Linked DNA regions of Homo sapiens: region 1 is linked to region 2. A link means that fine-mapping ties the variant in region 2 to the expression of a gene that starts in the linked region. Tissue or cell type: whole blood. Region 2 holds a variant in brackets; the other region holds the start of a gene. All regions are shown on one strand. Distances are from middle to middle. Region 1 holds the start of NAB1 (NGFI-A binding protein 1). Region 2 overlaps NAB1 (NGFI-A binding protein 1).

Region 1 (16,666 bases), 40 kb after region 2:
CTAAATCACCTAAAGGAGGCTCTGCCTGTCCTCCCACTCCAGGGAGAATCTATCATCCACCTGGGCACTAACTCACAAAAACAGAGCTCTCAGGAGTTACAGACCCAAGTTTAGAGCTATATTAAACTACACTATACCAAATAGAAGGGCTGCTATAAAGTGTTGGAGGTGGAAGAAAGGACATTTACTTTCCTATCATACACCTCGTGCAATTCCTCCATAGGCTTTCAACGCAATACAGAAAAAAAAAGTACATGTGTAATGTGTATATACATACACATGATCAAAATAGACTGTGGAAGACACAGAAGCTCCAAGACATGGGGCTTCTCAGTAGTACACACACTATCTTTTTTTAATAAGAGGACTGTAACTTTGCAAGGTTTACAGGGTGATCAATTAACTCAGCATATGTGCTCCTCACATTATGGAATAGAGCAGAGATTACATGAGGAAATCTGGAAAAATACTTTTAAATCTTTTTATGAGCAATAAGAAAAAATATATGTTAGACAAATACAAAAGAGAAACTTAAGAACTAAAAGACTCAAGCTTATATTTTATTCTTCTGAGATAAGGCAATGATTTTAGAAAATAATTTTCAAGTTTTATCCTTTCTCATCTTTACCCACTTAAAAAAAAAATGAAACCCCCTAGTTCTTAAGAGAAAGCCCTCTGCATGGGTAAGAAAGTAGTTATGAATATAATATCTCCATAAAGACTGATAGGACCAAGTCTACATTTGCAAAGCCAAGATAACAGATGCAACATAACTAAGTAACCAATTCGGTCCCTGGAGGCTTTCTAGAGGCCCACACTTACTACTGGAAAAGGAGTTCTCCTCCTAAGCTTTTGCTTTAAGAGAATGTTTCAGTTTCCTTCCAAAGCCGGCTGTGATAATTTAAACACCCACCCCTTCATACATGAACTTGATGTGATTTGAAAGAAAACTTTTACAAGATTTTCTGTTTTCATAAAATCTATAACCATTAATGATTCAACATGAAGGTCAAATAAGTCAAAAGAAAGCTTCTACCTGCCTCTCTCCAATCTGAAGTAAATATAAAATGGGTCCTTAACACGTTATATACAGGTAGCTTAGAGTATTGTAAATCCACTCAGCTGAAAACTACTGTTACCTGGGCTTTTCAAGATATCCTGGAACGACCACTCGGAGTCTGACTTTTCAATGAATTCCACAGTTAAGAGAAACCAGTTAACTGCATTCAAAAGCTAACTCGGAGGCCTTGCTGCCAATGTACAGCAACTTCCACTTCCACTTCCATCAGCTTAAATGTTCCTCCCCCTGCTCAGTCCTATAAAAAGAATCCCAATGATGTTAGGGGAAGAGGAATTAAACAATGCATTAATTTAAGACCATTTGTTGTTGTTATTCACTGATCTTTTAAACGGTAATCATTTGTTCCAAAACTTTTTTTAAAATTCACTTTGGCTCCTTACAGGGTAGCATCAGTCACCTGCCAGATTCCAACTGTGCTAAGTGAAGCAGGGAGCTAGTCTGGCCCACAAAACTACCGGTCAACTCCTGTTTCGCTATGGAAAACAAAATTTCCCTGACAGTCTCCAAGCTGGGATGTGAGGATTTTTTGATAGGACAGAGGGCTTTAATTGTCACTAGAGAAAAGAAGAACCATTCCTTCAAACCTGACTCAGGCCAGCTTGTTTTCTGGGCTCACCATTCTATCAAAACTCTGGGCCTCTCTCTCATTAATCTGTCTGCTGCATGGTATCACTCCTTGAGATGCTCTTCACCTTACTTTGGTAATGCTATATTATTTGTTTTTCCTTCTTTCACCTATTATATTCTAAGAATTCTCCAAATTTTTATATTACATCTCTTTTCTATTGTGTGTCCATAATTTTCTTTTGATGATCTCACCCATTCCCAGGCTTTAATTATCACTATAGGCAGATGACCTCCAAATCTGTATTTGTAGCTTGGACAAGAGCCATGGAGTCACTCCAAGTGTTCTCAAATCCAAATACACACAAAGCACCAACTGCTGAGTGAAAAAGATGCCTCTCACACACGTCTACTTTGCAAATGAAGGTAAATAGACACTTCTGTTATTCAGTAAAACTCACTTAACAGTATAGCTGAATTTTTGTTTTGTCTTTACATGTATTCTCAAAAAACAAATACTAAAAGTAGTCATAAATATTTGCAAGTTTTTATTTAAAAAGCTATCCTCACACCTGAAAAGTTCAGAACCATCAGCCCAAACTGTTCTTCTGAACTGTAATTTGGCATTCCACCTGGGCATTGTCAAAACCTCAAATTTGATGTGTCCAAAATCAAGTACATTCTCTCATTTTCTGCCCTTCTTCCAGATTCCCAAGTCTACTCTTTCCAACTCTCTTAGTTCTTTCAGTTGCACCATTGGTCTTTCAGTTTCCCGGATTTAAGTAAGTTTGGATTCCATTTTTGCTTTTTCTTCTTTCTTCCTCAAATCTACATGTCCTTAGGCTACACCACCACTTCTTTCTCTGCCTCAAAAGCACCAAATTCTAGTGTTCATTGCTTCTTGCCCCAATTTTGAAAAAAGCTCCTTCACCTTCAATAGATCCCACACTGCAATGCCAAGTTTACAGATTTGCGAACTTCTCCACCAGTGCAGAGAAAGAAATCCAAACTACTCATATAGGCATCCCAGACCCAAGCCTATCTTTCCAGCCTTCTCTCTGTTCCTTAACATGCCCATATACTTGTGCCAAGCAGATACACTAGGCATTCCTCAAATATGCCTTCCACTTCCCTGCCCCTGTGCCAGGCATCCTCTCTCCCTCCAACCTTCACAGCCTTTCCCAAAATGTCTTTCCCACTACCCCTGGCTGCAGCTGTCATCTCCCTTCTCTGAACCCCGCAACACTTTGTCTCTCTTACATTTTGAACTTATTCAAATAACACCAACAACTAAGCCAGTTCTGGGGAACAGAGGAAAGACAGTCCTTCATGGAGAGTCAGTTAAGAGCAAGGAGAGACAAGAAGCAGAGACTTAAACAATGTGGTAAATGCTGTGCAGCTGTGAAGGAGTCATGGCACAAGGAAGGCAACCTGCCTGGCTCTGCAGAACAAGTCACTGTTAGGTTATAAGCACCCCAAGGGTAGGAATTAGGTTTCATTACTCTTTTATCCCCATTTATTCCTAGCAAAGTTTCAATGATGAATAACATCTCTGGAAAGGTTGCTGTGCAATGAAACCCAATGTCTGAGTCAGAATCTGATCAGCAACCTTTCATATTCCAAAGGGGAGGCCTTCTGTGTAAACCAGTATCTCAATGAATTGCCAATCCAATAACAGGGCATCCTGTTACTTTACCTACAATCCTTTTCATTCTCTCATCCTTAATACTTCTTCTTTCTTAAAAAGCTATACGGTGCACTCCTATAACATGGCTATTCTCCCAAGAAAGCAAAAGTTCCTGCCAATACAGGAACTACAAGTGGTTAGTGTTATACATCATGCAACGAGTCCGGCCCCAACACCTGCCTTTTAAGAATTCAAGTTCAGTCATGAGATCCTAGGTCTTTTTCTTCTCTGTTCCTATAAATTAAACACGGTGTAAGTTATCATCAAATATCTATCTCATTAATGATCCATACACTCAAAGGGATTTATAATCACTATTCTTGCATCTTCTCCCCTCCATGCTATGGGAATCATTATTAGATACACATACACAAACATATATAGCAATACACATATGAACACACTTCCAGGAGTGGGAAGAAACCACGGGCAAAATCCTAGTAAGGCCTGACTTATTTATGCATAAGACTAGAAATTCCTTCCCCCAACACAGCCTGCAATTTTTACTTTAAAATTATCTGAGTTAATAGCAACCTCTTACAGACTTACAAAAAATGTGAAAAACCTTGGGAAGAGTTAAGAGCTCATGAGTCATTTACAGATAAAGGTAAATTAGTTCCATCAGATTGTTTTCTTCTTAACATCTAGACAAGATCTGATGCACATTAATGAAAGATTGAGATGGGAAATGGGGACAATGAAAATAGGAAATCTGAGGACAGAAAGACTACACTTAGAGCCTCTGAAGTATTCCAAGTTCAGGAGAGTATAGCTTGAAGGTACAGGGGCCTGAGAGAAGGGTGAAATGGGTACACGAGAGGCTGAAACAGAAAAGGTTTATAACAAACAAGAATTTGATTTAGGGAAGGATGAGCCTCTGTGTCAGGGGTGTCCAATCTTTTGGCTTCCCTGAGCCACACTGGAAGAAGAATTGTCTTGGGCCACACAAAAAATACACTAACGATAGCTGATAAGAAAGTTTATGCATTTGTGTTGGGCCGTATTCAAAGCCCTCCTGGGCTGCATGCAACCACAGGCCTCGGGTTGGACAAGCTTGCTCTATGCAATTAATTATTTTCGCTTTTATTCTCATCCTAGACCCAGAACTCAAGCTAAAATGATTAAATATAGTTCAGCTACACTTTATGGGTTACTTAAGATTGTAGGGTTGGCCTAGGTACTAACTCCCATGTATGTGTTTCAAGCTTCCAGTGATTTACCTAGGCACACATATTAGTAAGCATTCAGTGGTGTACCATATAAGTCAAGATACTTCTGGATCTTAGCTATGAATTAAATATATACCTTCTAATGAATTGACTGTAATTTGGGAAACTTAAAATGTTGTCTCTTATTGATTCGTTTCTAAATTCTGAATGGAATGAATGAAGCTGGAAAAAAATTTTAGAGACACCTTAAAATTTTAATAAAAATATTCAGTGTGAGGTTAAATTTACTTGCCAAAATTAGAAAAAACTAAACCAGATTTTGCTAAATGATAACTATGTATTTATTCATTTAACTATAGTAACAATAGGCAAATACTAGCATTTCGTACAATGGCTGGAAATTCTTAACCAACCAACCATCAAGTCATTCAACAAACATTAAGTACCCACTGAGCACAGAGTATGCAGGCAATATTTATAAGTTTTTTTCACCTTTTCAGAAGTTTCTCTGTAAAAATCATTAAATTAATATACCATGCAAATTAATGGGTCACCCCCTAAATACAATGTATTGAGAAATGACAAACTCTTTGAAAGCTTAATGGCATGTTTTAGCTGTGTGAATTCTCACAAGATGAGGATTACTATTTTTTCCAAGCATCAACTTGTCAAATTTCCCACTTGCTCCATTATTAAGTTTAAGGAGTATATTCTACTGTTGTATGAGTTATTGAACATGTCAGATCAGAAAGGGAATTTGCACTTAATATAACAATTGTACCATTCTTCATTCTACTGTTGAAAAGGATAAAAGAAGCAGGTAAGATAAAAATAAATCCAAAGCAAAGGGTCTAGCAATCTTCTATTATGCTCAAGTGGGTATTATTTATGCTATAATATGTTTAGCAAATTCCACAATGAAATATGCATAGACGGGTTGATTATACATTAGCATGATCTTAAACTGTTCAAAACATATTATAAAATGGTCACTTCCATCCAAAACACAGCTTTGCATTTAAAGGTAAATTTTACAAAGATTTCATTTCCAAAAATGTACATAAATAGCACTCACAAAAAACAGCTCCAGGCTTGTTATAATGGAATAAATGAGTCCTAAGTCTTAGGCCAATGAAACCTGACATAACTTCGGAGGCTAAGGTGGGATAATCCCTTGGCCCCAGGAGTTTGAGGCCAACCTGGGCAACACAGCGAGACCCCATGTCTATATTTTCTTTAGAAACTGACATACTTCTGTTTTCATCCAACCTGAACTTTAAATATTTAAAGTTCATTAACAAATTCATCAAAGATGTCCCCCAGTTTATAATTTCTTCTTTCAAAGAAGCATCCACAGTGCAAACCCCCAAAATCTTTAATAAACCAATAGGTTCTTAGCTATACCGTGATGAAAATACCTAATGCTTTCAGTGTTTCTCTAACAAGGAGAATAAACATCTATTAACTTTCTCATACGACAGTGGATGTTATTTGCCACTTACAAAAAAGAGATTACTCAACTGAATAATTTTGAAATAAGATGAGATAAAGTATTTTTTAGATAGATCAAGTTATTTACTAGACATATAAGCTTACTAAATGTCCTTGTAACAACCATAGTAATCCTAAGAATTTCTGTCATTTGAATTACATCCATAATTAGCAGGCAGAATAAAATAAAAATCTACAGTTCCTCAATGTTGTCATTATTACATTATTATTGATACCTTCACAAGTAACAAGAGACCATCAGAGTCGGGAAAAAAACATTTTTAATCTCGAAATGGCATATTAACTTTAGTGCAAAATGGTAAAAATAATAAAATTGAAACAAGAAAGCTTCTTCCAGAAGTTCCTTGAAATTTTCTTTCAAGACCTAATGTTCCAATATCTAATACCCAAATCAGGGATAAAAAAGGCTGACCTAGCCAGTCATCTACAAAGACTCAAGAAAACCCTTATTTGTATGTTAATACCGATGAAAAAATATAATCTTTTAAACTTAAAGATAATATTGTATGTCTTAAATGACACCAATATGGAGAAGAAAAAGCCTTTCATCTAAGAGCCACTTTTACTGGCACTCAGATTAGATCAGAAGCAGCTCTTTCAGGTCTTCAGGAAAAGCTCAATCTCCACCCAAAACAGAAAAAGCAAATCCTATGCATCCTCTCTCCTCATACTTCTTATAACCCACACACAAATTATGAAATATCATAATTCAGTATGTTGTTCAGGGAAAAATTTTCAAAAAAGTGAAAACCTAGGAAGGTAAGTCATTGCGTGAACACTTTTACAACAGCTAAGCATTTCCTACGTGACTAATCTATTTTAAATTCGGCTCCTCTGTTCCTATGCAATCTCATATTATCTATTAAAACTGCCAAAATATTTTTAAACAAGATCTGAGAATTCCTCTTTCAGCTTCTGATCTTTGCACTCTTTGAGTTGGCAGACACGTCACTGGCAAACCAACTGGTAGTGACAAGTTACTCCAAATCGACTCTTTCAGATGAAATTTTAAATTAACAGCCATCCCAAAATTTTCCGTGCCTCCCGAATCTCAGGGAGCGAGGTGTAAGTACATGCAAGTCTACGATTCCTCCCGATCACTCGCTGCAAAGCTTGGTCTGCAGAATCGACAAATGTATATTCCATCTCAACTATCCCTTTCCCCGAGATCCTGCAACATTCAGGCTTAACAGAAGTGTCATTTCCTATCTCAAGCTTTGGAAGCTCTGAGTTTGCAGACCACAAAGATTTGATAGTATTTTCAGTGTTTCTCCATGATAAGGTCACACACACACACCTCTATATCCAACGCTTGTATGTCCCACATGTGTTTCCAAATTCCTCATCGGCCTTAGAGACACAAAGAGTTTCTGGCTTCCCTGCACCTCAGCGCCAAGTTTCTGTAAGCCACTTCCATGTAAAACTCTCCTTCCGCTTTTAAAAAGAAAACTACATTCGGAAAGGGAAGATACCCAAGAAGAAAATCGAGACGGTAAGTGCAGCACTTTTATAAAGTAAACAAACAAAAAGACTGCCCTGACGAAGGTGGCTGCAAAACTCTGGGGCCGGCGCGCACAACCCACATCGCACACCCCCAGAGCGCCGTGTGACGCCCCCAGCCCCGTTAGCAAAACGGACTCGGCACCCCAACCTTTCTCGGAGGGAAAATGCACGAGTCAGGGCCGCGCTCCCCGCCGCCCTGGCACACAGAATGTCTCCGGGAATCGCCCACACGAGCCCGGGGCCGCCCTCTCCTTCCGGCGGCGGCCGCGCGGAGCCCGCTTCCCCCGGACACCGCCCCCAAAGTGCCCGCGTGGCCCCGCGACTCAGCCGCCCCAAGTTCGCCCGTGGCCGCTCAGCCGCGAAAGTGTCCCGCACTTGGCGGACCGGGAGTGGCGACCGTCCGCTCCGGTACGTACTCAGCCAGCGGCTGCAGCGGTCTTGGCGCGCTCTCCCCGAGGACTGCTCAGCCCCAACTCCGAAGCGACGGCCCCCGGCTCTCCCTCCTCTGGCGGCTGCAGGAGCCGGGACGCCCCCGCTCCCATCGAGGGGGGAAGGGAAGGTGGTGGGCGCGCTCTCTCTGCTCCCCCCCACCTCGGGCCCGCCGCTTCTTCCCGCCCACCCGCCCCGACGGCGCTCGCTTGGCCGCGGCGGCGGCGGCGGCTCCTCCAGGCTGCGGCGCGCGGGCGGCGGCGGCGGCGGCAGCGCCTCCCCCGCCGCGCCTTGCCCTCCCCTCCCCTGCCTTCCCCGCGCGCGCTACACCCTCCTCCCCCTCCCCCGCCCGCCTCCGCCGCCTCCACTCCCCCACCCCGCGCTGTCACATTGGGAGATTCCGCTCTTGCTACATTCGCCGCTCCGGCTCCCGCCCACGCGCGGCCGAGTGACGCAGATCCCGGCGTGGGCCGCCGCCGGGCGGGGGCGGGGGCGGCCGCTGGGCCCGGGGCTCGGCCCCTTCCCGCCGCCCCCTCCGCGGAATCCGGAGGACGGCCCATTCACACGGCAGCTGGGAGGAACCAAGTGGGCGCCGGGAGTGGGCGGCTCCCGCGAGTCCCGCTCCGGGCGCGGGGAGGGGACGACAAAGAGGGAGACGGGTGGGGAACGCCGCCTCCGGCCTGCTCTCCAGCTGCGGAGTGAACTGGGAAGGTTTGCAATTAAAAAAAAAAAATTATGTGTGAGGTTCCCGATATAGTATTTCAAAGAGCACACCCGCCAAATCCAACATCCTCTAGGAGGCTGACTTTAAAAAAAAAAAAAAAAAAAAAACAACAGCGCGCCGGGCTCCCCTGGCCCCCGCAGGCTCGGGGCAGAGGCGGGGAGGCAGGTGGTCCAGGTGCGCCCCTGCCCGGGGGGGCGAGGCGTCCGGCGGGAAGGCTGCAGCGACCGCATGGAGGAAGGGGCGGCAGGTGCGCGGCGCTGGAAGAACCGGCGGCTGGGAGAGCATCTCTGCCTCGCCCATCTTGCCCCCTCCCCACCTCCGCTCTGGCGTTGGGACGGGAGGAGGAGGGAGGAATGGAACCAGGGAGTCCGAAGTACAGCTTTGACAACTGTCGCGCTGGCCGGGTAATTTAATTCCAACCTTTTTAACCTCCTGAAAATCTGCCTTTTATTTTACTGTTTAATGTTTTTTGTGTCCATGGTGTAGAAAAACTACGGCGCTAGTATAGTGCTGGTGTGTGCTAAATTAGAGTTCCCAAGGCACAATATAGAATTTTTTGGTTTGCATAAACTTTGCTAACCAAAGTATTAAAGCACCTTCAAAAATGTACTTAGGCTGGCCAGGGCTCACGCCTGTAATGCCAGCACTGTGGGAGGCCGAGGCGGGCGGATCACCTGAGGTCCGGAGTTGGACACCAGCCTGGCTAACGTGGTGAAATCCCGTCTCTACAAAAAATACAAAATTAGCCGGGCGTGGTGGCGCATGCCTGACATCCCAGCTGCTTGGGAGGCTGAGGCGGGAGAATAGCTTGAACCCGGGAGGCGGAGGTTGCAGTGAGCCAAGATCGTGCCATTGCACTCCAGCTTGGGCAACAAGAGCGAAACTCAGTCTCAAAAAAAAAAAAAAAAAAAAAGAAGAAGAAGAAAAATGTACTTAAGCTATTGCCAAAAAAATTTTGGAAGTCTGTTTTTTAAATCTATATTTCAATTCTTTGCAAAAAGTGGAAAAATTAAAGAATTTTAGCATTGTGTTCTTGAAGATTAGAGAGCATTCATTAATATAAAACTACTGCAAAGACAGGTAGAATCCCATTTTAACATACACATAAAAATCAAGTTTTATAGGAGGCCATTCCCACACCCTGGCTGGCCTCCCAGAGTGTGCCTACTTCGCTGATGGGGATACAAGGCATTCTTTGAGATGGGAAATTCTTCAAACCACATCTTTATGTTGCAGCAAGGGATAGGATGATGATGATGATATTGAAAGAAAAAGACTTTAATAAAGTACAGAACCTTTTTTTTTCTTTTTGCGAAATCATGTTATAGAAATGAGTAATGCCGCAATGGAATACATATAATTAAAGTTAAATCTTTTTCTTCAGTATTAGTGACAGGTTTTGTCTGGAGTAGTTGAGTTGATATTTCAAATGAATAAGTCTGCTTAATTCCTGAAATTCTTTAACTGCAGAAATCACTGCTGGAAGTTTCTCTTAGTCTCCCTAATTGTCACGGTTTTTGCAGCTGTGGATCCTGTTCTACTAAAGAGAAAGTTAGATGGTCATGTTAAAGACGATTTAGGCAATTTCTTGGTTGGTGGGGAAGGTAATGTTCAGGCAACGAAATCTGCAAAATTCTCTTCTAATTCCTCTATGGAATCTTGATGTTTTGCAAACACTCTTGGTTCTGAAAGCTAGAAAAAAAGAACTTTTTTCCGTAAAGATGTATAATCACGGATTCATGAGTCACGAAATGAGTGGTCTTACCTGAACTATTGAGCCTTCTAGTGGAATTGTTTCCAGAGTTGGAAGAAACAACATTAAATCCTCTTCCCAAGCTTGTCTGTGTCTGGCTGAACATGATGCTGAAAAGGAAATGTGTCAGGACAGATACTTTTTCTTCTGAGTTGTATCTGGTTTCTACAGTTAAACAGTGGAATCTATCCTTGTTTGTTTTCTGGGCACATTTAGATAGTGTATTCTTCCCACATTAAGAATGGCATTTTTGGCCCACTTTACTTTGCCTTAAATGCCCTGTGGTGCTGGGGGAAGTGGTGGGAGGAAGGAAAATGAAGGAAAGATAAAATTTTAAGCTTTTAAGCATCCAATTCTGTATGTCTGTATGACAACACTGTAGTCAATATGGTAGCTCAAAAAGAACTGAAGCATTCGCCTGTATCTGAGTCAAGTCAGACGATGGATTCTTTTTTTCCACCTTACCAGGTTTTGTCACTCATGCCATCCCTAATACCTCCTCCCGACTCCAGCACACACACAGTCTTCTCCCACTCCCACGCCCTGAGGATTTGTTAGAGGAAAGCAAAGAGATTCACATTCCATCCTGGAAGGTAACAATTATGGTGTCTGATTATCCTCTGAAGGCCCTCTGGAAGAGATCAAACAGTTTCAAGGCTTTAGAGTGTTCTTGGAGGCATCCCAGACAGGTGTAAGAATGTGCTAACACAAATAGTTGCCATTCAGACCACTTTGGATATCTTTTGTTAAACGTCCATGCAATAGTTTTGGTTTCTCCTGGTGTGATTTTATTATAAATACCTGTATATTGAAATTATTCATTTATTCAGTACAGCTTGTTGAGCACCAAGAATGTGCCAGGTTTAGGGCTGGATGCTTGGAACACAAAGACAAGTAAGTCATGGATGGTTCCCTGCCCGCAGGGCTTTGCTATAAAACAGTGAAAATAAGGAGAACAGAAGGAAGTCTAAAAGACAAAGGAAAATGTTTTGTCTCTGTTTATAGTTTTGATTGTCTTTTCATGCACTCTAAAAGATGAATATAAAAACTACTAAGGAATGAGACTATATTATTTTTGTAATACTTCGTCGAATGCAAATAGTAAAATAAAAATAATTTTCTTATACATGGAAAATCACATTTCATGTTACATTTCATTAAGAGCCTAAAGGACATGAGTGTAATTTCCAAGAGGCAGAATTTTTTATTCACTGCTGTATATTCAGTGGCTAGAACATTGGCTGACGCATACTAGTCACTTAATAAATATTTGCTGAATAAATGAAATGGAAAATATGAACTAGCAGAATTTTGTATTTTGTAGATGTTATTAGTATGAATTGTATTTCCTAATAGAAGTGTCTAAAATATGTGATGCCTACTTCTGATTAAATATATAACATTTTCAATAAAATATTAAGAGTTAGAATATGTTTTGAAGCAGTGTGTAAATTGTGAAGTAATTTTAGAATGTTCCTAAAGTAATTCATATTAGATTTTTAGGCACAAAATTTATTTTTAAATAAATTACAAAGGGTTAATAAATACACCAGATTCTGAATTTTTAACACCATTTGGAAAGTGGTATGAGAAATATATCAAATTCTGTTTTTTTATTTATTATTCATGTGTTTATTCTTAACTCTATCTCTTGCAAATATCATCCCAGGCTTATTCCTTATATATAAAAGTAAGGGCAAGACAGAGCTACTTCTGATGTCTTAAATAAATATCACTTGTATGGTTTTAAATTTTGAAAACACTTTTTAAAAAATTTGAAAGCCTTCTTGACTTAGTTTTTGTTTTTACCTGTTAGGAGTAGATTTGGGAGAAGCTTATTTTACAGGCGTGTTCATAATTTTAATCCGTGTTGTAGAGTGTGTCACAGTATACAGCCAAATCACCAGGTTTATTTCCCCTCTCAGAAAACCAGATTTCCTCTCTCAAGTTGTGTGTGTGTGTTTTTTTTAACTTTTATTTTAGGTTCTGGGGCACATGTGGTTTGTTACATAGGTAAACTTGTGTCACTGGGGTTCATTGTACAGATTAATTCATAACCCAGGTATTAAGCCCACTACCCAATAGTTGTCTTTTCTGCCTCTCTCCGTCCTCCCACCCCTCACCCTCAAGTAGACCGCGCTGTCTGTTGTTTCCTTCTTCGTGTCCATGAGTTCTTATCATTTAGCTCCCACTTGTAAGTGAGAGCATGAGGTATTTGATTTTCTGTTCCTGTGTTAGTTTGCTAAGGATAACAACAGCCTCCAGCTCCATCCACGTTCCCACGAAAGACATGAACCTGTTCTTTTTTATGGCTGCTCTCAGGTTTAAAAATTAGAGAAAGAGAATAATTTTTTTTGTGCTTCTGAATGGAAGTTGTAATTCATGGAAAATAGAATATAATGTATGCCACTGACAATATACAGTCAGTATATATGACACACCTTTGAACACAAGACCAGTCAATGGTAAATGAACACTGCTCCTTCACATTGTCTTCTGATGGCTCTGTCAAAGTACAGAAGCATGCTGAGATGATTCGAGATGGAAGATGCACGTTGGCATTAAATAGCAGTAAACCACATACTGAACAAGCTATTCCCTTTTCAATTCTTTCAGTCCTTCGAAGGAGGAAATTTAAATTGGTGCCAGTATGTCTGTAATCCTTCTAATACTTGCTGAATTCTGTTTTTTGTTTTTTTTTTACAATGAGGAAACAGGCTTCAGCTCAGAGCCTTGGCAGGCCTCAGTATATAGCTAGAATTTAATAGCACTGTTTTCCTTGTATTTGTTTTTATGGTTATCTTCCATTGAGGCAAATGAGATTCATTATGCATTTAGAATAACGATCTCAAAATACCTTTTAAATACATTTCCTTGAGCAAAGACCCTTAATTTTAAAATGAGGACTATTAAGTAAACTCTCTTTTTTGTTGTTTTTGTTTTTGAGACAGGGTCTCACTCTGTCACCCAGGCTGGAGTACAGTGGCACAATCATGGCTTTCACTGCAGCCTCAACCTCCCAGGCTCCAGTCATCTTCCCACCTCAGTCTACTAAGCAGCTGAAACTATAGGCGTGCCACCATGCCCGGCTAATTTTTCTATTTTTTATAGAAACAGGATTTCACCATGTTGGCCAGACTGGTCTCGAACTCCTGGGCTGAAGCTCACCTCCCAAGGATAAATGCTATTTTAGTGGTGCAAGAAAATAATAACTAACATGTATCGAGTACCTAATAAGTGCTGGTAGCACTTTATCAGTATTAATTCATCTGATCCTCGCAACAGCGCTATAAAGTATGCACTATTATTCACTTCATTCTCTGGTAGAACTGAGGAAACTGAAATATGGGGTACTAAAATTACCTGTTTAGGTAACATGGGAGAGCCAGGCTTTGAGGCCAAGATCTCTGTCCCACAGCCCATGTCTGGACCATTAAACAGATAGCTCTAAGCAGCCAAGTCAGTGCTGGAGGTTTCAGAAACACTGACACAAGTGTTTCTCCCATCTTTAAAACTCCAGTTTAACTTCCTTGAAGATCACTGTGAGCTCCACTTCCCTCAGTAGCTTCTGCTTTCCCTAACTCCCATTCCACTTCTCTTTGGTACCACATGGAAGGCTTATAGTTATTTATGCATCTTTAGTTACTTAATTATGTTCATCCTAAGTATACAGTAAGCCCCCTTGGAAGGAGCAACTATGTGTTATACTTCTCTTGAATTCAGTGAATATATGTTTAAAAGGGGTTTTAAGAAATTGTTATTAAAACTGCTCAATGATTAGTGCATTATTTTAGCATTTGCAAAAATAAGGGATTCTTTTGACCCAAAAAAAAAAAAAAAAAAAAAACCTTAACCATTTCCACTTTGTGAAACTAAAAAAAAGTTTTCAGTGAAAAAAAAAAAATGTAAGAAGTTGGTAGTGATTTTGACATTTGAATGAAAATTTCACTAAAAGAGCATTAATTTATTATTTTCGGAAAGATTTCTTACTTTAAAATGCTTCAGTAATTCCAAACAAAAGAATAGATTTAAAATGTTCTTAGAGGAGAGGAAGAATAACATTATGGCTTATGACCTACAAGATCTAAGGTATAATATAATTCTCGTCTATTATTGCCTCAGAACAATTCTATACTTAACAAATTTTCCACTCTGTGTGGTGGTAGCCCTACAATTAACTGAGTCATGTAGAATATTCATATTACCAGAAATATAATTAAAATTTCCCTTATTTTGCGATATGAAATTCAAAGCTTTGGAAGTGTATTGTAGACTAAATAAACTTTTAAATGCATGGAAATTTGAGTATTTTTAAATATATAGAGATTATAAACAAGTTTCTTAAAGACAAGTTAATAGGAATATATAATAACTCATAATTTCAAGAGCCACGACTTTAAAAGTAGCTGCTCTTCTGAAAAATAAGCAAACCTTTATCCATTGTATTTTATTACAAGATACTATAGAATTTTAAGGTATAAAGGATTATAAAGTTTACCTAGTTCATCCTCTTTTGTATATTCAAAATATATTCAAATACCTTGCAGAAATTCATCATACAACTAGTTTAGTTTCCAATTGCTTATTTCTTTATAAGTTGGTTATTTTGAACTTATAATGCAATCTCTGTTGTAAGAATAAAACAACAACAACAACAAAAAAAAAACCCGAGATGGTTAGGTTCCCAGGATGAGCTACCAGTGCTTATAAAATACAAGTGAAAATACAAGTGTTACAGACTTTGGGGGGATTAGGTGGGATCCTAGAAATCATCTAATCCAATTGACTTCTACAGATAAGCAAATTTATACTACACATTGCTTATAGAAAGAGCAGAAAAGTATATTAGGCAGTAAGTACAACCAAACATTTAATTGACTGAATAGTAATTGTGGTTAAAATTTGTGTTTAAGACAGAAGAAATGTAAATGGAAACTTTTGAAAAGACTTTCTTAAGAGAATTTCGGGAAATTTTTTAAGGATTAGAGCCTTGTTTTTCTTTCTCTTCTATCCCCTATCTTTGGCAACAGTGGTTAAAACTCCGCAACTCTATCTTCTCTTCCCACTCCTTCCCTTTTCTCCCAGCATCCACTGTGCAGGACTTGTATAGTTAACTGATCTGTAACACTGTTTTAGGTGTCAGCCACACTGGCTACGGTCCACTCATTCCTGGCCATTAATAATTGTCTGTTAACAACACAAGCCAGGGTGGAGAGTAGGTTAAAGTGCTCTGCTCCCCATCTCTGGAATGTATTCAAACCGTCTTCCACTGCACACTGCATTCTTGGCCACCCTGTTCCTCACAGTCCCAGCTTTGGCTTTACCCTTCTCCACCCTGTTTGCTGAGATGAATGTCAAGTCTGTGCCCACTCTCCCAGCTCAGTCTCTGGGCTTCTCTCTTCCTCTAGGTCTACACTGCAGCCAAAGGACCCAGCAGCTGGAGTACCCTCCATCATGAGGGTGGATGGAGGATTTTGTTTGTTTCCTTGACAAAGGTGTGTGACTTGTCAGCCAAGATGTTGGCTTTTTCATGAAAGGAGCAAGGAAATAGGAAGAGAGCATGTTAAGGAAGAGAGCCCTTCTTGAAGCAAATGGGCAAGAATTGGAAGGAAGTGGGGAAAGAGGATGGAGATTACAGAAGATGTGTCTGTACTTATGACAAGTAACTAAAGTAGATATAACTATTTTGGGAGAAGTGAAAAGCCAAAGAAAAAGTACCAAGTACAGGGCTCCCCTAAAAAAAATGGAAAGAAAAGGCAGAGGGGGCAAAGAAGAGATCATCCTCACATAAACTCCTCTAAACCAGCCTCTTGACGTGGGACAGATGGGAGTGTTGGGATGGAGTAGTTGGGACAGATCTGCAGGGAAAAGGGGCAGAGAAACAGCAGCCAGTCTTCTCTCTTCGCTTGGATTGCAAGAGGTAAGTGTCAGGAAAAGGAAAGAAAAGCAGAATGGGTTCAAAAACTACCCCAGCACACCAAATACTTTACTATGCTGATTCAGGTAGAATCCTGAGTTGCCATATCACCCATCTAGCTAAAAAAAAAAAAAAAAAAAAAAAAAAAAAAAAAAAAAAAAAAAAATTGAATGTGTTAATATTGATGAGTTGGCGAATTGTCACAACAAATTACCACAACAAATTACTCAACACTGCCTTCTAGGAGCGGATACTTTGAAAGGACAATGCATATATCCTACAATGAGAGACTTTTAAACTACTGAAATACAGATAAACATAGTTCCG
Region 2 (16,666 bases):
TGGGGGTGATAAGTACCTCCTGGAGTTGCAGAGGATTACATGTAAAGTAGTTGGCCCAGTGCTAGGAAATGGAGGATTTTTTATATGGCACTACCTACCAGATTAAGAATATAAGCCTGAGTTTTAAATCTTTTGCTTTGCAAGGCAGAACTAGATCCTGTCTTTTAAATAAGAAATCATAGAAAAAGTGACTTCCCTTATAAGCCAGCTGTCACATACCTGTGACATGAAATGGAAAAGTCTTGAGAAATGGAATCCTCTCCTCTCACTTTTAAATATTAAAATATATTAAAATTGTTCTCTCTTTGAATAAATTACATAACCTCTAATTAATTTCCCCTTTAATGTTAATTTTTTAAGTGGAAATTGCCTTTTATTATCCTAAGAATTGGAATCAAGTACCTGGCTGTATCTGCGATGTCCCTATCTCACTATACAAATTTTTCTGTTGCCTTCTCACCAATAAAAATCAGAAAGATGTGCTCCAATTTGAAAGTTAGCCAATATATGCAAAAGAAACTCATAAAAGTCAATGTATGAGCATTTTCTGATGATGGAGACATTGGTTGAATTCAAAAAGAAAATGAATGACCTAGTTCATTTTAACTGCTGATGAAAAACATGCTTACATTATGTTGTCAGGGATCTGGGGATGGAAAATACATACTTTTTGGGGGAAAATAATGAAAACAATGAGACTTTGAAGAGCCTACAGTGTAAGAACATGCTACCAAAAAAAATCACTTTGTCTTTTGGGAAGGATAATAGCAGGGTATGGTGGGTGCTAGACCACAGACGTTTGGTTTAACAGTTCACAGTCGAAGACGATAGGTAGTCTCAGAAAATTATAAAATGTCTCTGCTGAAACAGTTACCAGTAAGATGCCACCTACGTATGCACTACTTAACTAGCTTCCTACATACTGCAGCCTAAGTGACCTGCCAACATAGGGTGTCTGTGACAGTTACGAGAGAATGGCCATGCTTGCTTGGGATTATGTGTGGGTGTTGAACATGGCACTTGGAACAAATTTATGAGGTGCAAACTTCTAATGCAAAGATGACTCATAAGGTTTCAGAATGTGTACATATGAAGCACATTCTAATTTATACCATCACTAGTGCTCACCCACAGCAAAACTAGGCTAGGTTGATTACCAAATTGTTTGGACTAACAGGAAATTCACAAAATTTGTCACTCTTAGTAAGTGAGAAAAATTATTGGGTTCATGATTTTAACATGTGTGGCACTACCATCTTGAACCAATGTGATGTACTTAATCTACATTTTGCAACATTATGTTTTGATGTCAACATTGAACTATCACTACTTCTCAGAGACTGAAGAAGCTGATTCTTTTAATAAGTTAGAATGGAAAACTTAAATAGAATTGTATAATAAAGCAAACATTTCAATAGAAACTTCTAAAACTTAAAACTGTATTTAGGTAGGTTTCTCGATTTACATAAATGTAGCATAATGCTCTGTGCAGAGGAAATTTTTTAAACATTTTACTGAAAGTTATTCTTAAGATATTTAATAACTAAATTGACTAAAGTGCACTAAATATAAAGTCAACAAAAATTAGGAGAGGTAATTTCCCACTTCAGTGTCTTGATTGTGGTAATCAGTATACAATGTACTGGTATAAAAAACCATCACACTGTATACTTCAATATCTTTTTGTCAAATATTTTAAAATTAAAAGAATAAAATGGAAAAATAATGGTAACTAAGGATTTCATATGGATGTTGAAATAAGAACTAAGATTACTATTTTATGTGAGTCTGATGTTCCTTGAGGGTTTTACCCCAATTGCTAAAAAAAAAAAAAACTCATTAAAAATTCCTTTAAGATGAAGTGGTAGAAGCCAGACCTTTAACATTATTGGAGCAATACTTTGAAAGTAAATCACTTAGCAGTCAGAATAACAATTTGGAAATTGTGACCAAATAGTCAAACACAGCTGGGAGACCTAGAATTTAACAGGACATCGTTTTAACACTTAAGAATTGTGTGACCTAACAGATGGGAAGACTATAAAAGAGTAAGGCTTAATTAACCAACTTTGTAAACAGAACCAGTTCACAGTTCCCTTAAAAGTGATTACGATTTGCTAAACTTAGAAAGTAAAGATTTGTAAGCTGAACTTAACCTTAAGCACAATACATTTTTGCATTCTAATAAGTTGATTATGAACTTAAAAAATAAATTTCTGATTAGGCTTTTCTGCACAAAAAAAACACCTTTGAGGTGATCACAAAAAAAAAAATGTCATAGGTCAGCAGAAACAGATGCCAAAGATTTTTTTTTTTGAGACGGAGTTTTGCACTGTCGCCCAGGCTGGAGTGCAGTGGCATGATCTCGGCTCACTCCAAGCTCCGCCTCCCGACTTCACGCCATTCTCCTGCCTCACCCTCCCGTGTAGTTGGGACTACGGGCGCCCGCCACCATGCCTGGCTAATTTTTTTCTATTTTTTTTTTTTTAGTAGAGATGGGGTTTCACCGTGTTAGCCAGGATGGTCTCGACCTCCTGACCTCGTGATCTGCCCGCCTCAGCCTCCCAAAGATGTTTTAAAGGTTTAACTGTTGCATACTCAGAAAGTAAGAAAAATCCTAGCTCCAGCATTTTGCTTTTGATCACTTCTACATGAAATAAAAAATTGTCTTACAGGATCACTATGGACATAGTTAACAGTAAGATTTTTGATATTAAATTGTATTTACAATAAAAATGTCAGGCACTGGATCATTCTCTTATTAACTTTGGAGGCCTACTTACAAATTTCATTTATGAGGACACCCACAGATAAGAAGCTTGCATTCCCTGAAACACCACCCATGCACAGCTGGACCATATGGTGGCTTTTAGTAAAAGAGCAACTACTGTATTTGGTCATTCAAGCTGTTACAAACATACAAGGTTTGTTCAATTCTAACTTCAGCTACTTACTAATTGAATTGATTTCCTAAAAGAGGCAGACCTTCTGGCTTCATCAGGTTGGTTAATACCTTGGTTTTCTTTTGAAGACTTGATGTAGTACATTAAGTCACAAGCAAAATGGGCATTGTGTTAATAATACTTAACTATTTTGAGACCCAAGTGGACAGACCATAAGTTAGGAAATTCCCTGCATACTTATTTAGCTTTTAAGTCTTAAATAGTGTCAACTATAGTTGTAAAGGTACACTAGGTGCTAGTAGTCTCATAATTACCAAATCCTAAAGCTTTTACCCAAGTGGTTTCACTAATTAAGGACAGATGAAAAGCACCTTTCCCCGCTGCCTTTTGACAGATTTAGTGGATCGTCAAAGGAATGATTACCCAGGCAAGCAGATCTAACTGCCATGCAGTTTCAAAATAAAATTGCAGTAATTTAACAACAACAACAACAAAAACAACAACAAAAAAGCAGCCTCAAAGTGAAATGTACTGCCACTATGGCTTTTTATCAAACTCCACCTCTGAATGTTGATTTCAGTCCTGACCGATCTCTTCTGAATCTCACTCACTGAATGTGCTTTCTCTCACCTGTGAAGTGCCTGCTACCACAATGTCTGCCTAATACAGAATGCACTTAAATGTCAGCTCCTCATCCCAATATGTAAGGCACTGAAATTTTTATGTGAGTGGTATTAGTTCCTACGCAGCTAGGTTTTGGGCAAGGATCATATATTTCGTTTGTGACCTTTACCTCTTCCCTGGCACCTAGCACAGTGCTTGGCACACTGATGATCTTCATTAATCTATAGAACTCATCAATACTTGCTGAAAGGTTCTTCCTGGTTCTTTACTACAGGTTAGCTCAATTTCATATAATTAACCCATAACACTGAACCCAAATCACATTAATATTATACATATATGTATTATAGATGTTAAATCCTAATGTTCCTTTTATTAATATTTAGAAATGGTGAAGTTTTAAAAACGTCTTCATAAACTTCTACATAAATGAGAATATAAATTGACCTCTCTCTGCCAGACAAGAGTCTACTGAGAACCTGTTTACCAAATCATTTTTTAGAAATGACGGTAGCTGACAATATTTAGTCCCAACCTAAGACGTAAGTTCTTGTCCCTTAATACTGAAACCCAGCTTAAATAAGCAGATAAGCGAGGTAGAGTGGGTTAATATTAGTCACTGGAAAACTTCTATGTAGAAAATGCTATAAACATAAATGTGTGAGGCACAGAAAATCTTTATTGCCACAGGAAGCAAGTGCATTCGTCCCACCTCACCAACAGCTTGAAGAGTCACAAAAACGTGGACATCGCACAATAAAGTGTAAGAGACTCGGGGAGAAATGGTCCCTTGGACTATATTGGCTGTAATACTGAGGTAACCAATTGACCTTGTTCAGTGAAAATACCTCTAACAAAATGAAAAAATCAACTAATTATAACTTCCAATTCACATATACAATTCAAATAAAAATATATATTATTTGCTTTAATGTATAGCAAGTTTAATACATTAGTGTTTACAAAATAAAAACTGTATTCTACTGAAATTTTTCTTGTGCTTCCACCTTATCACTAAGCTTGAAAGACTAGAAACATAAGATAGTTAAGGAAACTTATTATGAATTTAAAGATGCAATCTGTGGGTCCACAACGAATGGATAAATATTGGAAGTTGGAAGATTACTGCATCTTTTAAAATTGTGGCTTATGAAAATCTACAAACTTGACTGTAAGACACAATTAAAAAAAAACAAAATGTTTCAAAATAGATTAGAATACAGGAAACGTTTCATGAAACTACTGAGATATACTAACCAGTGCTATGGCTAATATTAAAAACTGAACAGTCTATTGAAATCGTACTCATACTATTTCTACACACAGTGAACAATACAACCACAATAATCAACCTCAAGCTAGCAACAAAGTTGCAAGGTCCATAAGAAGCTTCTTCAGTGAGCAAAACACTATGGTACAATTAAAACATTTAGGAAGGGGAAAAAAGCCTTTTAACAGTATAAAAGTTGTTTACTGGCGTTTCCTACTGTAAAGTACTTCTACAAATTAAAATGAAGAAGCAATTTATATACGTGACAGTGATCTGAGACTACAGTGCAGACATTTCATCTAACATTTGGCTGACAAATTTTAGTGTAACAGATTATGACTTAATATTTTTTACAATTATGATCTAGAGCAGAACTAAAAACAAAAAAACACATACTCTCTTACACTCAGAGTCAATACACTCTTCTCAGTAATATCTGGGTTTAGATGCATCTGTAGGAAGTAGGTAAAGCTGTCAGTTATCTTCTCTTAAACCAACAGAAAAAACGTATATTGGCAGATGTATGTTGTTTTACCATTATGAATTCCAATGTGAAATTCTCATAAGTATGCAAGTAAATTATTAACATGTAAGCACACTCCCATATATATGCACATGGTCCATTAATTAAATTGGGGGAACTAAAAACATACTGTCAAGTTAAAATAAATTTTAAGAAAAAACTGCATTCATAAATCTCAAAGGTGTAGAAAAATGAAATTGTAAAATAAATAATGAATATAGCTGTCAATTAAACTTCCATAGAAATATGCCTACAGATGTGGATGCAGTGATTGTCCACATTTGTGATGGCTGGGTGGGAAGACATTCCCTAGTGAAAGCATCTAGTCTCTCTGACTTCTCTACATAGAGAAGACTTTCTGGATATAAAATAGTACTTAATCTGTTACAGCCTTTGTTAACAGTCGCCATCTTTATAACATGTAGGGTTAACTTACTGTGTCTTAATCTATTTAACACATTCTGAAATATCAATGTTTAAGTCAAAGCTTTTATACATGGGTCCACTTATTTCAAGTTCTCTGTCCAAGCAATAGCTTCCTATCTTTGAAACATCTTAAGTAGCTATTAATACAATCTAGGTCAACTAGTTTAAGATATATTTTCTACTCTATTGCTCATCTTTTTAACTTTCCTCCACTCAAGTATTTATTGTGTAAACGTGCATTGATAACCAGATGTTATATGACTGAATGCTAAAAATTTCCTGTTAAACAAAATCAGTTTTATCAAATATTAAATCCACAATATTTTCCTTGGCTTAAACTGAGTATTCGCTTTCTATTTTTCCATAATCATTGCAATCTTGCCAATAACTGCATCACTTAAGCTTTCTTTTTCACAACTGCAGGCAGATTCTAAACTCTGACATATATTTACGTTAAACACACAAAGTAGACAACAAAATTTCAAGTAAAATAAACTGTATCCACATCTATTAGACCAAACAGGTCTCAACATCTAGATTTTACTTCTATAAATTACACAAATACATTGTACATTCTTAAATAATGAATGCTTACAATATTGATTTGTAAGCCTTTCCATATAAAATGACTTAACACAGGAATGTGAATGAATCAATATTACTGTTATAGATTGCAACACTCTTGATTTTCTCTTTTGTGGCTGTTGTTTTATCTTCCTGGTTTCCACAGACTACCGTACCAGTCCTTTTGCTTTGGCTATGAAATCTGTTTGAGCTGAATGAGGCAACACTGGTTATTAAGGCTTATTTCTATGATGGAGTATTATCCTTAAATCTGATGCCATTTCCAGAGAACGGTGAGAGAAATCACAGCTATCTTGAATCTTCAGGCTCTGTTTTGATGACTTTCTTTTCTAAGGTAAAAGCTGAATGAGGGTAGTCTTTTAAAATCCCAAGGCTCTCTACATAAAAATGGAAACAAAGTGAGTTGATATTTTAATCAATGGACTACAAAAATCAAACAAAGTTTTAAAACAAACCCCCAAACTCCATATCAAATAGTATCAACTATTCATGATTCTGTAATTCCATGCAAAATTTTTGTTCATAGAGCTGTTAAGAGCTTGGATTCTGGATTTAAATTTCAACTCTGCCAATTACTAGATGTATACATATAGTATACATATATGTATAGATGTATACATCTCTGGGCAAGTTATACACCTCTCTAAGCCTTAATGTCTTCATTTATAAAATAGGAATAGTATCTACATAAAGTGGCACGAAAGTTAAATAATGAAATGCACATAAAACATTTAGCATATAGAATATATTAATTTTTATTTAATGCTTGATCCAACATGATAAATATATAAAAGGAAGCTGATTATTCATAAATAACTGTTACTGGTTAAAATA[T/C]TTACCATCAATGAAGGAATCAGACTGAAAAATATCTTCATAACCTTGGAACTATTTTTTAAAGTTCTTCCGACAATGACATATTAAGGTAGGGGAAATAGGGATAAAATAATGAACACTATTTTCATGAGAAATCATTCCATGGAGTTCTATGTGTACAGTTATTTCAACCATACACAAACACTACAGAATAACAATCAAATGTAACCTTTATGTAAAGTACAAATACTGGGAGATATGTACACACACATATACATGCAAACATCCACATCACATACACTCACACCTTGGATTCTAGAAAGTAATCAATACTAATAGCTTATCTGAAATTAAATAGCTCAATTTATGAATCCTCTCTATCTAAACAGAAGGGGATTTTAAGTTCCGCGTAAGAGTAGTAAAAAAAAGTAGCTACTATTTATTGAATTCCTGCTGGCTGGAATAGATAGTGTACGATGCAGGTACACTATCTTGTTTAATCCTCCTAACTACCCTACGAGGTAGAAATTACTTCTCTTTTACCAATGAAGCAACTGAAGGACGAGTACTTAAGTAACTCAGTCAGGGTCACTCAGTCAAGTATCGGTGCTAAGATCTGGACCCAGGCTTGCACTGTATGAAACCTGTATTATTCCTATTCAGTTAAAAATAAAGAATAAGGTGGCCGGGCACAGTGGCTCACACCTGTAATCCCAGCACTTTGTGGGGCCGAGGCGGGCGGATCACAAGGTCAGGAGATTGAGACCACGGTAAAACCCCGTCTCTACTAAAAATACAAAAAATTAGCCAGGTGCAGTGGCGGGCACTTGTAGTCCTAGCTACTCGGGAGGCTGAGGCAGGAGAATGGCGTAAACCCGGGAGGAGGAGCTGGAGTGAGCCGAGACTGAGCCACTGCACTCCAGCCTGGGCGAGAAAGCGAGACTCCATCTCAAAAAAAGAAAAGAAAGGAAGAAAAGAAAAGAAAGAAAGGAAAGAAAAGAAAGGAAAGAAAGGAAGGAAAGAAAGGAAAGGAAGAAAGAAAGAAAAAGAGAAAGAAAGACGCTTTTTCAGGCATTTCTTCATTCGGTTCTACCTAAAAACCTAGATCAATTATATCTCTATGTAATATATCTCCATGAAATATGTAAATATGCCCCATGATGAGACACATGATCAATGTAATTGGAGTATTCCTGTTACATAGAGTCTTCTAAGGAATATAAATTGGTAAAAAGTCGTTTTTTGTTCGTTTTTGAAAAAACTTTAAAGATCACTTTTTTTGTGTTATGGAAAACATGAGACCAGGATGTCATCTTTTTAGGATAATTTCAATTTCCCAACCTCCCTTTGACATTATTAAAATGGCTACAATCAAGTATGCAATAGCATGCTTTAAAGTCACAGTACCAGAACATTATTTAGAACTCGTCTTTTTAGCATCTGCTACCAAGAGTATGATCTAAAATTGAAAGACATAAATGCTCTTGATAACACTTTTTTTCTAGTAAATACATAATTCATTCTATCTAGATAACAGATGTAAAGTCAGGTTTAATCCTAATGCTTGTAAAACTACATTTCCCGCTGACTTACAATGCAAATTTGGAGCTATTTATTTGGCTTTAGCTACCTCATCTATAAAATCAGTGACGTTGATTAAGTGACTCCTAAAGTTACTTTAACTCAAAGACTTGAATGATAACAGATTCTTTCAAATTGTGCTGGTCTCTAATGCTTTAACTAGGTCTAACTCACTTTACTTGGATAAAAATATGTAAATATCTAACTATGATAAGGAGCTGCTCATCCTTTTATGGAATTCAGTTTACTTCTGAAATATGAGTATCACCTCCAAAATACATCTGCATGAAAAGTCTAGATTTTGATACACAAGGTTTTCTCACTGTCAAAGCAAACATGTAGTCCATCAATTTCATATTATGTTATTGCCAAAAAAGGTAGTAACACAACTCAAACCAGCTATTTATTATTAAACTTTCATATAAACATCACCATTCATATAATGGCTAATCAAAGTAATCTCAACTTTCATGAGTTTTCCCTGTCATTGTTCGGAATATGAAGTTTGCAAAAAGACTAGTGAGAGCAGCCAGTGTTATGGCAATCTACCACTTCCAAGGGGAGAAAAACTGACAATTGAGCATCCCTTATCCAAAATGCCTGGGACCAGGAAGTGCTATGGATTTTGAGCTTTTTCAGATTTTGGACTATTTGCATTACACCAAAGGTTCAGCATCCCAAATCTGAAATGTTCTAATGCGGGTTTCCTTTGAGTGTCATTCTGACACTCAAAACATTTTGGATCCTGAAGCATTTCGAATTTTCCAGTTAGGGATACTCAACCTGTAGGAACACTGTCAGTAATGACTTTTTTTTTTTTTTTTTTTTTTTTGATGGGGGAGGAAATAGAACAGAATTTAAAGATGCTTTTATTCAAGTGTTACCCTCTCATCATATAGCACGTTCTCACCTGATGAGTGGGACTTTGCCTCACTGGGGTAAAGTCTGCTCAGCTCCCCATCCACCACAAAATGATGGGGTTGTCTGTTCTGTAAATTAGGCATTCGGAGATTCAAAGGTCTTTCTCCTAATGAAAAGAAAAAAGAAATATGCATAATATTAAAAACATACCATGGTTTTTCTTAAAAATAAATTTTGCCTGAACACTCCTTAGGAAAAAAGTGAGGAGAGTCAACGAGCACTGAAGAATTTAAATAAGACTTGGAAAAAACATTTTAAATAATAATTTAAGAGGAAAATGGCAAGTCATTTCATGCCAGTCCCAAGGTTTACAATTCTGCCAGGATATTTTTAAGAGCTAAACAAAAGACTGAGAATTCCTGTGAGCATTCCAGTTTTGGCATATAATACATCTCCTCTATAAGGCATTTTCTTACTAGAACAACCATTTTACCAAGGCATGTCATTAATCATATAATAACAAGTACTAGAAAGACACAGAAGGCTTCAAGCCAATTAAAGATTAAAAAAAAAAAACTACAGCAAAATCCGTGAAAAAACAGATTTAGCACAAATATGGGAAAAAATTATACACCCAATCATGTTGTCATGTACTGAAATCCATCACATTAGCAAATTGTCACCCCACACTGAATTATCCTGGTGTCACAAATTAGAGTCACCAAATCTTTAATAATTGCCTTTGCTTCTTAACTGTTAAGGATAATTGGAGAAGTTAAACAAGACCTCAACTCAGAGGTTCCTGTAATATTTTTAAAAGGAAGAACTTTCTTCTCTTCCAGTACTCTGATGTGTTGACACATGTAATATTTCAGTCCATGGCTGGAGAATCCTTGTTAAGATGGTATCCTTACCTAGGAATCCTTTTATTTTTTTACAATAATAACCACTCTCTAGAAAAGTATAACAATAATATATAAAAAGGAGGCACTATAAAATTATTTTTTTTCTTCAAACACTTATTACTATTTGAAACTAGAGGATATATAACCTGTACATCTCCCTCCACTACATGTAAGCTCCAGGTAAACAGGGATTTGTTCCCTGCTGCATCTTCAGTGCCTAGGAGAGTGCCTGGCACATAGGAATTGCTAAAAAAATAAAATGCCTGTTGGTTGGGTGAATAACAATGACTTGGGATTTTCTTTATGTGAGGATGTGAAAAGAATGAAGTACTTTTTAGAATGGTAAAAACACTCACGAATCACATGGCTTTCTAAACCTGAGCTGTACTCTGTCATAACACTTTAGATGCAGTCACCATATTCTTTTAAGAACCAAATGCTGTAAATTTCACAAACTTGTTTTTGAAGTCTAAAAAAATATGAAGTTTTGGTCATTTAAAAAGGATAAACATCTCTCCCGGAATCTGCTTCTTCGGGGAAAATAATCTGTACTGTTGACATCTCACATTCCCACCAACCCCTACAAAATAATACATGTCAATCTCAGGTGCCAACTGCTTAAAGATTAAAAAATTTACAAATTAAAATTTGCAGGATAAATTATCTTTTTAGAAAAATGAAGAATTCAAAAAATAATTTTGATAAGAGAACCTGTAAAATAATCTCTACAAAATATCATAATTTAAAAATCAGCCACTGTCTTCTGTTTCTCTTTGAAGTGCACATAGTGGCCCTAAAGGCATAGGATATTCTAAAGATGTACCTTGTCCATCTGAGTTATCGGAAGTCAAGCCGTTAGGACTGTGCTCTTCTGAGCTCTGCCTGTAAAGCCCTGCAGACAACCTCCTCTCGGCATGCTGCAGTCTCTCATAGCCAGCTTGGTTGCAAAGGAACTCCATCTGCTTTGCCATCACCTTTTCAGGCTGCTAGTAAGTAAAGCAAAAATCAAATCAGTAACTGAAACATTCTAGATTTTTTAATGGTTTAAAGATGCCAATTTCAGACTCCAGCAAATATATTTAGTATTCATTAAAATTAGTTCACACTTCATGTGGTATACAAATTCCATAAATATGCATAGATGTCTATATCATCATGTTAAAACATAAAAGGCTGGATATTGTACAAAAGATAAAAGCTTTCTTCTCAATTCTTTCAAGAGAATTCCATGTCAGCTCAAAAGCAACATAACCTTAGCTTTGTTTTCCAAGGTACTAAGTCCTTTAAAGGATTTTTTAAAACAGAAATCTAAAAGCAACAGCAACATCTGCTATAAACTACTTCTAACACTTGGGGCGAAATCTTGGCATTTTTATTTTAGGATCTGGCAGTACACAGACTCTGATATGATGACAATATGTTTGGGGGAGAAAAGGTGTAAAACGGCTGTCTAGAAGAACAAGACAAATACACTTCCCACTAAAATTAAACAATGTAAATTATGCAGAAAAACATCAGTGCCAATAAGCATCTTTACCTTCATCATGAAATGAAACTGCAGTATTTCCCAACCAATCATAAAAAGGCATATTTTAAATATACAATTAGTCAACTGACATATAAATTTATCTCTGTATGTGTTTTATAAGTTCCTTTTCAATGCACTGCTCTAAATTACTTATATGTGATATTCAGAGCAGTGTATTTGTGGTATTTTGCCAAGGAGATAATAGTCAAAATGCACAGATATGAATCACTACCATGCTATATAAGAGAGTAGGACAAGAAAGCTGCTATATAAAATTGGTTACAAAATGCCCTGATTCACAATGTAAAAATCAGTAGGTAAAATATATTAATTCACAGAATAAACATGATAAACACACTATTTTTCTGAGTGCATATAAACCAAATCAAAAGTAACTACAACTTCATTTCATTTGAACTTGTTACTAAATTGACAAAATTTAAATAAGCATATCTGAGGTAAAAAATGTATTTTTCATCCTAACATGAAAAAAACAAAACTTAGCAGTACTAAATTTGATCAAAAGCAACTTATTACAAAGAAGCTGTTCAATAGGAATAAAAGTTTACAGTGCTTTCTAAAAGATGATGTTTGCAGAAAGCATTTTAAAATTTTAATTTCAGTATACAGACAAAATTAAATAACTTAATGGCAAAAGCACCTGAAGCCACATATTCATTTAATAGTTTTTCAATAAATATGAATTTAAAAGATTTAACAATAATTACAATGTTGACTATTAATATTTTATTGAGAACTAGTATTATTTTATCTCAGAGTTGCATTACACACAGCCATGGTCAACATGGCTGGTTTTCCTGATTATCAAACTGTTTAAGTTTTCTTGAGCAGAGAATCTGTCTCACTTCCTACAAAACTACAAGAATAAATAAGTAGCACCATATCAGATTCCGTTCATAAACTGAATCAAACCAAGTTGTTATTGCTCTCATGTTGATACAGCTGTGGCTCAGATGACGTTTTAAAAAACAAACGGAAATAAAAAGTCAGGCCTCAGATACTTAAAACTGAAGCTAGTTGAAGTAGTCATTTATTTTTTAACCTTCAGATACTATCATGGAGTAATAACTGGGAGTTTATGTTACCTGTGAACTAAGAGCTGCAAGTTCTTCACTCTTAGCTCTAGCCTGCTGGAAGAGTGTTTGCACAGAATCCTGGAAATCTGGAAACCCATCCTGTGGGTCAAATAAGAAGTCCTTTATATTTAGAGTTTGTAAATAATAAAATATTATCAAAAACTTGAAAATAAAGCAAACTCTTAATCTCACTACCTGAATAATCATGATTAAGATTTTAATGGTTATAAAATATTTCATTTCAGCCTTTTATGAAACATACATTATTTTCTACAGCTGTAACCTCAGTAGAAACATAAATAAGATGAAAAATGTCATCATTCCTATTGTTTTACACTGGAAAGAAGGCTTTATGATCATTGATAATAACGGTTATATAACATTTCACCTAGGCTGGGTGCAGTGGCTCACGCCTGTAATCCCAGCACTTTGGGAGGCCAAGGTGGGCAGATCACCTGAGGTCAGGAGTTCGAGACCAGCCTGTCCAATATGGTAAAGCCCCATCTCTACTAAAAAAAAAAAAAAAAAAAAAAAAAAAATTAGCTGGGAGTGGTAGCACACGCCAGAAATCACAGCTACTAGGGAGGCTGGGCAGCTACTTGGGAGGCTGAAGCATGAGAATCGCTTGAACCCAGGAGGCGGAGGTTGCAGTGAGCCGAGACTGCACCACTGCACTCCAGCCTGGGTGACAAAGGGTGATAAAGTGAGATTCTGTCTCAAAAAAACAAAAACAAAAACAAAACACATAAAAAACATTTAACCTAGTGGGGGGTTTGATTAGCCACTATCCTCGCATTGGACATTTTTTATTCTTTTCCTAATTTTTGGTTTTATGAAAAACACTGCAAAAATATTTTCATGGAGATAGCATTTTCGATAGCTTAGATTATCTACTACAAAAGATTCCCAGAAGCAGAATTACTGCAGAGATGATATTTTTGTGCCTTATGTACTTTCGCTAAACCTATAGAGGGCCTTTACTAGTTTATCATACCACAAGCAATACATGACAATTTCCTTGTCAGCACTAAGAATTCTTGTTTTCTTAATTTATGCCAATTTATCTATACTTTTGATACTCAAAAATCATTTAATTTTTATATGCCTGTTTTATATGCTATAGTTGTACATACTTTTATTTTGTGATTTCAACTGTTGCTATAAAGTTTAGAGAAATTCTGCTTCAGAAATTTGGTTCAGTACTTAAATCTACCCTCTAATTTTTCTAAAAGTTTGATTTGTTTTTTAAATTTAACCCTCTGACCTATCTGAAATTAATTTTGTTACATGAAATGTGGCTAACGATCCAAACTAAATGTTCTTTAAAGTGCTAACCGATAATCCCAACCTGAATTGCTCAAGGATTCCTTCATGTTGGCTTGCGATTTCACCTTTATCATAACCTATGACAGGAAATGGAGCTTTGGAATTCGAAAGGCCTGTCACCACTCACTAGCTATGTGACCACCGGATGAGTAACTTAACCTTTCTGAACTTCAGTTTCCTCACAGGAAAATTGAGGATAGGAGAACCTATCTATTAGGATTGTTGTGAGGACCAAATGAGATAAAGCAAGTGAGATAATGCCTTCAGCATGTAATAATTACTAAATAAGTAAGTATATCAATACATACTAAATTCCCATAATAAATAGGGCCTATCTGGGGGCACTGGATAAAACTTCAACTTAAATTACTTCCATTTTATACTTGGTATTCCACCTACTTTTTTCAAGGTTTTCTTTTTTTGACTGTTTATTGCTCATGATCATTATAACTACAAAATATCATGACAGCATGGTTTTAGTAACTTTAGTGAAACCTCCTAAAGGACTCCTCACAGAAATTAGCATTTACAATTAAACTCCAAAACATTATTTCTCCCCTTCTTTGATAAGCTATATATTTGCAGCAGAGGGCAAATCCTTAAAAACCAAAGTTCTTACAATACACAGCAGAAAAAGATGGAATAATGTAATAATAACAAAATATTTTACCTTATTTGGGATATAAGATAGTGGTTCAAAAATTTTCCCCCATCAGGGTCTTTTCAATAAATTATTTCTCCACTGCAGATTTCTTTCAAATATTTTATCTATCAAAATACATTCCCCAAGTAATAACTAATTTGCTATTTTTAAAATTCAAAGACATGATATAGAGCCAAGAGCTAATAAACTTAACGTCTTAAGATGGTCCTATGTAGCTTTATCATGGGCCAGTATGTAATTAGCACTTTTGAAGTGTTGAAAATAGCCACTCTTCTAGGTTTCCATGTTGGCTCACAGATGTGTATGGAACATAATCATAAAATAAGCTAAAATGAACTTCATATAAGTGTATACAGTCCAAGCTAAATCCAAAGTTCCCTTTTTCTTAGCCATTCCAGTTTTCTTATAAATAAGTTTTCTATTTAGACTGAAAAATCCAACTTTCTCTTTAGCAAACCCCCACCCCACTGGAACTGCTTAAGTTCTCAAGTTCAGTGAGGTAAGCTAGTAGAAGAGTTAGAACAACTTCAATATAAGCGGTTATCATTTTCCAGGGGTCTACAATATACCAGTCCCTATGTTCTATATTTTATGTTCATTATTTCATTTAATCTTCATCACAGACAAGACTGGGTTTCCTTTTTTTTACAGCTACAACGCTAGCTTCAAAGCCTATGCTCAGTCCATAAATTCAGAGTTACTACCTTTATGAAACTCACAAAAACACAGGCATTTCTATAAACAGAAATTATAGCTCTGTTTTTCATAAGCTGGACGGGCTTTAACTATATGACTTGCAGAGTTCAAAACCCAACTCTACTACTTATTTGCTGTGATACTGGGTAGATTATTTCATCTCTCTGTGTCTATTTTCTCATCTATAAAATGGGGATAACAATAGTACTTAACTTGCAGAATCATTTTAAGGAAGCAGAAAATTCATGAAAAATACTTAACACAGTGCCTGGCCCATAGGAATTACTTGATAAATGTTTGTTACTGATATCTGTTAAGTTCATCCAAAAAGCCACCAGATTTAATCAGAGTAAAGCATCATACTGGGGAAAAAAGAGAAATTTTATGGACAATTACAAAGTACAGACATCTTAGAGAAGGAAGAACTCAACATTTAATACTAAAATCAACCAGAGAATATTAAGCACATTCGTGGGGAACTATCTCAGTGAAAAGAACACTGGAAATCTAGAAACATGTGTTTATACATTCAACAAAAATGTCGCATCCACCCAGCTGATTCATACACTGTACTCAATATGGGAATACAACGTCAAACAAGATGGCCATGCCTCAGGCGCTCCTGACAACACAGTCCAGGGAGGGAAATGGACGGAGACCCAGAGCACAGCAGAGGGCGCTGTGGCAGAGCAGGCATCCCAGAGGCCAGGGTGTCTAGGCTGAGAGTTCCAAAAGAAAGCAGCTGGTACAGATGCCTGGAGGCAAAAAGAACAGGGCACACTCTGGGAAGCCGGAAAATATTCAATATACACTGAAAAAGAGGGAGTGGTGAGGGAAGGTGGAAACACAGGGCCAGATTCTGTA

The links.
Region 1: it holds the start of NAB1, and the variant in region 2 is fine-mapped to the expression of NAB1 in whole blood (TOPMed, PIP above 0.99).

Annotation. Positions count from the first base shown.
Region 1 is chr2:190,640,627-190,657,292 of GRCh38, reverse strand. It overlaps NAB1 (NGFI-A binding protein 1), which reads right to left and starts at 8,210. Exons shown (of 10, transcript NM_005966.4): 1 at 7,933-8,210; 2 at 7,311-7,447; 3 at 1,140-1,316. It also overlaps a transcript of NEMP2 not described here. RefSeq lists silencers at 7,700-8,299, 8,310-8,679, 8,710-8,759, 8,840-8,889, 8,900-8,949.
Region 2 is chr2:190,680,287-190,696,952 of GRCh38, reverse strand. NAB1 (NGFI-A binding protein 1) reads right to left here. Exons shown (of 10, transcript NM_005966.4): 7 at 13,126-13,215; 8 at 11,315-11,477; 9 at 9,636-9,752; 10 at 4,187-6,708. The coding sequence ends at 6,620. Among named protein-coding and RNA genes, the nearest start is that of NAB1, 40 kb to the right of the region's middle. The variant T/C (reference allele first, on the strand shown) is at 7,166.